Homo sapiens: one gene and its partner. The protein of the gene in region 1 purifies or fractionates together with the protein of each later gene. This does not show direct contact. Each region holds a gene or a part of one and is shown in the gene's direction. Other genes may lie near its edges.

Region 1 (3,649 bases):
TAATATATAACTCTTCTTGAATTCAGTGCCCTTTATTGGGGGAGAGGTGACAGAGATGTGGTTCTTTGACAATGCTTAGAGTTTCTTTCACAGTGATTTGGGTTTTCAAATTCTCCTTGGATTTTTCTTTAAAGAAAAATTCCAATGTGATTTTAGTTACTGTTTTAGAACAGATCTGTGTCCCAGGGTAGAAGCTGGCCTTCCCACCCCAGAGGATACCTCCTCAACCCTGCCAAGCACCCATAGCCTCTCTCCCTAGTCCACCCCTTCCAGGGAGCCTCTGACGTGGCAGGCAGCATGCTAAAAGCTGCCAGTTGAAGGCCAGTGGTTTTATGAACATCCAGGGGTGAGAACAGTAGAATAGCCCCTGCTTTACTGATAGAGAAACTTATCCTTCAGTGGATTAACCCACTTACCCACACTGCTAATGAGAGGTGTAGGCAGGGCTCCAACCTCAGCCTGACTTCATGCTCCTGCTGCAGCCATCCCACAAAACTTCAGAGGTGTAGGCCAACCCCTAGAAACACTCCAACATCACACTGCCACATATGAGGTGGGGTCAAGGTCAAGTGGGAAATGTAGCAGTTGGAAGCACAATGGATATGTCAAAGTACCAGATGCATGAATTATGAAAGAAGATGCCTTGTAATCCCAGCACTTTGGGAGGCCGAGGTGGGCGGATCATGAGGTCAGGAGATTGAGACCATCCTGGCTAACACGGTGAAACCCCATCTCTACTAAAAGTACAAAAAATGTGCCGGGCATTGTGGCAGGCGCCTGTAGTCCCAGCTACTCAGGAGGCTGAGGCAGGAGAATGGCCTGAACCCGGGAGGCGGAGCTTGCAGTGAGCCGAGATCGCGCCACTGTACTCTAGCCTGGGCGACAGAGCGAGACTCCGTCTCAAAAAAAAAAAAGAAAGAAAGAAAGAAAGAAGATGCATGAATTTTGAAACAAGTGGTTGTTCCTTATTTGGGGACAGTGTAAAAAAAAAAAAGTAGTTTTCCTCTATGCAAGAAATAGGAGCAAAGAAAGTCCTTGAGTGCCCTCTTGTGGAGAGTCTCAGCTTGATCCCACCGCCCTGGCATTTGCTGAGCCTCCTCCCACCCAAAGTACAAGTTTAGGGGTTTTCCCCTCCTGCTCTGTCTCCAAGTCATGGCACATCCTTGTAATTTCAGACCCTTTTATAGGAATGTGCGACTGGCAAAGTGGGCATGTGGCATTTTACTGTTCATTTGCCCTGGACAGGCTCTGAACCAGCAGATGATGTGCTTACCAGGGCTTGACTTGCAGGGAGGAGCCAAGTGGTTGGTGTCCAGAGGTCCTGGGTTCAAGTCCTGTTCCCACTGCTCATTGGCTGTGTAGGATGGGGAAGACACTTGATTCTTGAGCCTCAGTTTTCCCTACCTGAAAATGGGAGACTAATATCTACCTCTCAGGGTGATTTGGGGATTAAAATAAGTAAAGCAATCCACAGAGAAGATTAGTTCAGGGCCTGGCACAGAGTAAGCACTTGCTAAACGATAGCTGGTGTTATTATCTGTTTGAGCTGGGTAAGTAGTCAGGTGCCTTGCTAAGGACAGTAGGCAGCAGGACCACAAGAACTGGTAGAACCCAAGGAAGGTTGGGTGGCTGTGCTGAATGGCTTGATAAAGGTGGGCCTGGGGTGTGTCACAGGGTCAAGCCACTTAAAAGGAGACCTGGGCTGATCTGGCTTTGGGGGTGGCAGGGCCGGCCCAAGCCTGGGAGATACAGGGTCATACCTAATCCATTCACCAGCAGCCTAGGACATCACTTTAGGCAGGTTACCTACCTCAGCCCACAGTCAATGCCCCTTACACTTGTCCCACCCATGGCAGCACTTAATGGACACAATTTTTGTTTTTAGAGGCAGGGTCTCGCTCTGTTGCCCAGGCTGGAATGCAGTGGGGCAATCATAGCTCACTGCAGCCTCCAACTCCTGGGCTCAAGCTCAAGTGATCCTCCAGCCTCAGCCTCCCAAGTAGCTATGACTGAGCCACGATATCCAGCTAATTTTTTTTTCATTTTTGTAGAGACAGGGTCTTGCTGTGTTGCCTAGGCTGGTCTCAAACTCTGGGCCTCAAGTGGTCCTCCCACCTCAGCCTCCCAAAACACTGGGTTTACAGGCATAGGCCACCACATGCAGCTCACAATGTCATCTAAATACAATTTGTACCTGTCTTGGGATGGGGGGCTATTCTCTGGGATGACAGGGACCTGGACAAGTGGACATAGGGCAAAGAAAGACTGAATAATGGGCAGGGGGCGGGGAGGAAGGGAGCTTCCAAGTGAGACAGTGCCAGGATGCCTTACACCTTTGAGGGTCCATGCAGCTTGTTGAGGTGGGCTTGATTTCCTGGAGGCTGGGACAGGAGCTAGGGACCTGACCCATCAGTGAGGAGGGAGGGCCAGGCCCACCAGGGTAGCAGCCTGGGTCCCGATGGCCCCCAGTTAGAGAGTTTATGGGTGACCCATTCATAGGGGCTTCCTGAGGGTGTGAGGACTGCTGAGAGCTCTCCCAGAGAGACCCAACCCTCAGGGCTTAAGTTGGGGTGGTGGGGCCACGAAGTGGGCCCAGGCTTTGATGGACCCTCAGGAGTGTAAGGGGGAAGAGTGGCTAAGAGTTTCTGCTTGGATTTCCCATCTTGGGCTCAACCCATGGCCCTTGATGCTCCCTAGTTATGTGGCCTTAGACAAATCACTCTTAACCTCTTCAGCCCTGTTTGCTGAGCAGTAAGCTGGGGTCAGGATGCATCTGTCTGCACAGTGATGTGGAGGAGGATTAAATTAGGTGATGTGTTAAGTGCTTAGCACAGTATCCTGAGCATAGAAAACCCTTATGAGAGCCCAAAGGAGAAAAAATTAAAAGATTTGGACCCAGGCCCAAGGAGTGATGGTGGTGGTGCTGATGGGGTGGGTGTGGTGGAAATAGGGAGGCCTGGACACAACCTGGTTATCAGCACAGAGGTCTGGGCAGAACTCACCTCCCTCCCAACTTCACACCCTGTGGGCAGAGCAGAGAGCCTCCCATTGGCCCCTTACCTGGTCCTGGCTGAGGATGTTCTGCAGAGGCAGAGGCCTAGGCAGGACAGCACCGGGCTGCTGGGGCTTAGGGATGGCACCCCCTCCAGCGCTTTTTCTCTGCTTTCCTCCAAGGCTGCATTCGCGATTCTATGAGCTGGCCCCCAACCTCGTCCCAATGGACTACAGGAAGAGCCCCATCGTCCACGTGCCCATGAGCCTCATCATCCAGATGCCAGAGCTCCGGGTATGTGCAGGACCTCTTGCTGGCGAGCAGGGGATCTGTGCCTCTGGACCAGCAGCAGAGGCCCCCAGGTCTAGGCTGAACCCAGCTCCACCCTTTGTGTCTGCGTGGCTCTGAGCAGATCACAGAACCTCTCTGTGCCTCAGTTTCCTCATCTGTACTCTGAATAAATAAGCTATGTGGGCTCTGTAAGGGTGCTGTACATCAGTGGCCACCCAACTGCAGGCCATGGGCTTGTGCTCATTTGCTTGTCCCTTTGTTAAGTGGCCCCAAGCCTGCTGTAGTTGGCAGACCTGTGTCTGCTTTGTTAGATAACTTTTCTGTCTCCCCGTTGTCTGGCTGTGGCTTCTCACTGAGGTCAGCATG
Region 2 (3,649 bases), on another chromosome or scaffold:
CCCCACCTTCCAAAGCTGTTTTGAGGCAAAGCACTTCATGCTGAGGGTGGCAAGTAGGACATGCTTGTTAATGTGGAGTAGGACTATATTATTTCCATTATCAGAGAGGGCAGGAGCCATTTCAGGGTTACACAGCACAGGAAGTCCAGGGCTAAGTTCTTCACACACAGGGAAGGAGAAGCATAGGGCATTCAGATTGGGGCTGGTGGTGAATAGAGAATGATCCTTTCTGAATTACAGGGCTTAAAAGCTTGGGCTATGAAGTCATTACCCACTCATTCGTTCATTATGGAGCACCTCCTGTGTACCAGGTTATTTTGTTTGTTTTGCTCTGTTTTGTTTTGTTTTGAGGAGGAGTCTCACTCTGCTGTCCAGGCTGGAGTGCAGTGGCATGACCTCAGCTAACTACTACCTCTGCCTCCCAGGTTCAAGCGATTCTTCTGCCTCAGCCTCCTGAGTAACTGGGACTACAGGTGTGCGCCACCACGCCCAGCTAATTTTTGTGTTTTTAGTAGAGACGGGGTTTCACCATGTTGGCCAGGATGGTCTCTATCTCTTGACCTCATGATCCACCTGCCTCGGCATCCCAAAGTGCTGGGATTACAGGTGTGAGCCACCACACCCAGCCTACGTTTTTTGTTTTTTGAGACAGAGTCTTGCTCGTTGCCCATGCTGGAGAGCAGTGGCAGGATCACAGCTCACTGTAGTCTCAACCTCTGAGGCTCAAGCGATCCTCCCCACTCAGCCTCCCACTGGTTATAGTCTTGGCCTGGGTCTGAATCTCAGCCGTGCAACCTTGGGCAAGTCATTTTGCCTCTGTGAGCCACAGTGTCCTGAACTGTTAAATGGGATGATACTTGTTTGGGTCCCCAGGGCAGGTAGGGAAGTGCTGGGAAGCAGCCTGGGCAGTTGTGAGCAGGTGGACCCTGGAGCCAGACTGCCCGGGTTTGAGATCTGCCTCTTCCACCTCCAAGCTGTGTGTTCCCTTAGGCAGACTCCTAACCTTTTTGTGCCTTGCTTTCTTCATCTTTAAAATAGAGATAGGCCAGGGACAGTGGCTCATGCCTGTAATCCCAGTGCTTTGGGAGGCCGAGGTGGGAGGATCACTTGAGGCTGGGAGTTTGAGACCAGCCTGGACAACATAGCAAGACTCCCTCTCAAAAAATTGGCTGGGCATGGTGGCTCACACTTGAAATCCTAGCACTTTGGGAGGCCAAGGCAGGCAGATCACTTGAGGTGGGGAGTTTGAGACCAGCCTGGCCAACATGGTGAAACCCCGTTTCTACTAAAAATACAAAAATTAGCTGGGCATGGTGGTGCATGCCTGTAATCCCAGCTACTCGGGAGGCTGAGGTACGAGAATCTCTTGAACTGGGGAGGCAGAGGTTGCAGTGAGCCAAGATTGCGCCATTGCACTCAAGCCTGGGGGACAAGGGCGAAACTCCATCTCAAAAAAAAAAAAAAAATTATCCGGGATGGTGGTGCGTGCCTGTGGTCCCAGCTACTCAGGAAGGCAAGCCTAGGAGTTCGAGCCTAACCTCCAGTGAGCTATGTTTGCTGTGATTGCATCCATCCTGGGTGACAGCGCAAGACCCTGTCTCAAAAAATAAAAATAAAAAACAAAAACAAAAACAAAACAAAACAAAACAAAAAACCAATAAAATGGGAATGATAATAGTAGCACCTGAGAAGATTAAATGAGTTAATATATATAAAGTTGGCCAAGCGCAGTGGCTGACGCCTGTAATCCTAGCACTTTGGGAGGCCGAGGCGGGCAGATCGTGAGGTCAGGAGATCGAAACCATCCTGGCTAACAAGGTGAAACCCCGTCTCTACTAAAAATACAAAAAATTAGCCGGGTGTGGTGGCACACGCCTGTAGTCCCAGCTACTCAGGAGGCTGAGGCAGGAGAATTGCTTGAACCCGAGAGGCGGAGGTTGCAGTGACCCGAGATCAAACCACTGCACTCCAGCCTGGACAACAGAGTGAGACTCCATCTAAAAAAAAAAAAAAAAAGAAAATATATATTTTATATATATATATATATTATATACACACACACAGACACACACACATACACATATCACATATAAAGTGCTGAGTATGGTGCCTGGTACTTACTAATCATGTTTGATGAAGATGAGTGATGATGATGATGATGATGATGATGGAGTGGAGGTGGAGGGAGAGTCCTCCCTCTCCTCCCCTCCTCCTCACGACCTTTCTCTCTCCCTCAAGTTGCCATCTGCACGAGGTCAGAGCTGGAGGATTTCCTGAGTGAAGCGGTCTGCATGAAGGAATTTGACCATCCCAACGTCATGAGGCTCATCGGTGAGAGAGGGGCAGATTCAAGGGGTCTACAAGCCCCATGGGGGCCATAGCAGAGGGAAGAGCCCTGCTTCTGGCCCTGGGAAGATCAAACTTCCAGGCTTCCTGCTCCCCGCTCCTTCAGGGTCAGCAGGCTTCCCCCTCCTAGTCTCCCTCAGCTTGGAATGTGACCTCTGATCATTCCCAGAAATAGCTGAGGTCCCCAGGAGGGCTCCGGAAACGTCCCTGGGAACTCTGCTGGAAACAGCTTCTCTGCAGCTTGGTCCTTGCCACTGCCACTACCCCCAAACAATATGGTGGCCAGATTGGATGGGTAGTGAGAAGGAGAGGCTGGAGGCTGGCTGGTGGGGGGCTTGGCTTCCCCTTCTGCCCAGCAGGAGTGACAGGGCTACCTGGGGGGCTCAGGTGTCTGTTTCCAGGGTTCTGAACGAGAGAGCTTCCCAGCACCTGTGGTCATCTTACCTTTCATGAAACATGGAGACCTACACAGCTTCCTCCTCTATTCCCGGCTCGGGGACCAGCCAGTGGTAAGGGGCGTTTAATCATTCAGTCTACAAATATTAACTGAGCATCTATCAGGTACCCAGTGCTGCTCAGACCCTGGGAAGACCACGGTGACCAGGAGCTTGCTCTCCTGGAGCATTTCTTCCAGCAGGGGAGGGGCGGATGATAAACAAGCTAATAAATACCTAAGCGAGATGATTTAAATGTTTAAGTGCTAGGAAGGAAATACAGTAGGATGGAAGATAAGGAGGCCAGGCAGTGAATTTGGGTGGACGTGGAAGATCTTGCCGAGGAGGTGACCGTGAAGGAGTTGGGGCTGGGGAGATGTCTGGAGATCTGGGCAGGAAGCGACCCCAACAGAGCGCACAGCATAGGCAAAGGCTCGGAGGTGGGAATGATCATCGTTTGTCTGAAGACCAGACAGGAGTCTGGTGGGAGTGTCAGTCAAGGGCAAGAACATAGGCAATCAAGTCCAAGAGGAAGGCTGGAGCAAGTTTATAGGACCTTGCAGGCCATGGAGAGGGGTTGGGTTGAATTGTCAGGGCCATGGGAAACCACTGCGGGCAGAGCTAGGCTTGCACAGAGGGATGGAGGGAGGAGGGATCGCATCAAGGACTCTGTTGACCTCTCCTCCCACCTGCCTTGGCTCCCCAGTACCTGCCCACTCAGATGCTAGTGAAGTTCATGGCAGACATCGCCAGTGGCATGGAGTATCTGAGTACCAAGAGATTCATACACCGGGACCTGGCGGCCAGGAACTGCATGTGAGTGCCTTTCAGGGACCCCCCCCCCCCAACTGCTCCTGCACTCCCTGAGG

What was found.
Region 2: the proteins of CIB2 (region 1) and AXL purify together in Homo sapiens (affinity purification with mass spectrometry; one large-scale study listed by BioGRID and IntAct). This does not show direct contact.

Annotation. Positions count from the first base shown.
Region 1 is NC_000015.10:78,110,802-78,114,450, reverse strand, and holds part of CIB2 (calcium and integrin-binding family member 2), read left to right. Parts: intron 1-3,174; coding exon 3,175-3,286; intron 3,287-3,649. UniProt on the Homo sapiens protein: Calcium- and integrin-binding protein that plays a role in intracellular calcium homeostasis. Acts as an auxiliary subunit of the sensory mechanoelectrical transduction (MET) channel in hair cells.
Region 2 is NC_000019.10:41,250,113-41,253,761, forward strand, and holds part of AXL (tyrosine-protein kinase receptor UFO isoform 1 precursor), read left to right. Parts: intron 1-2,238; coding exon 2,239-2,331; intron 2,332-2,733; coding exon 2,734-2,855; intron 2,856-3,486; coding exon 3,487-3,596; intron 3,597-3,649. UniProt on the Homo sapiens protein: Receptor tyrosine kinase that transduces signals from the extracellular matrix into the cytoplasm by binding growth factor GAS6 and which is thus regulating many physiological processes including cell survival, cell proliferation, migration and differentiation.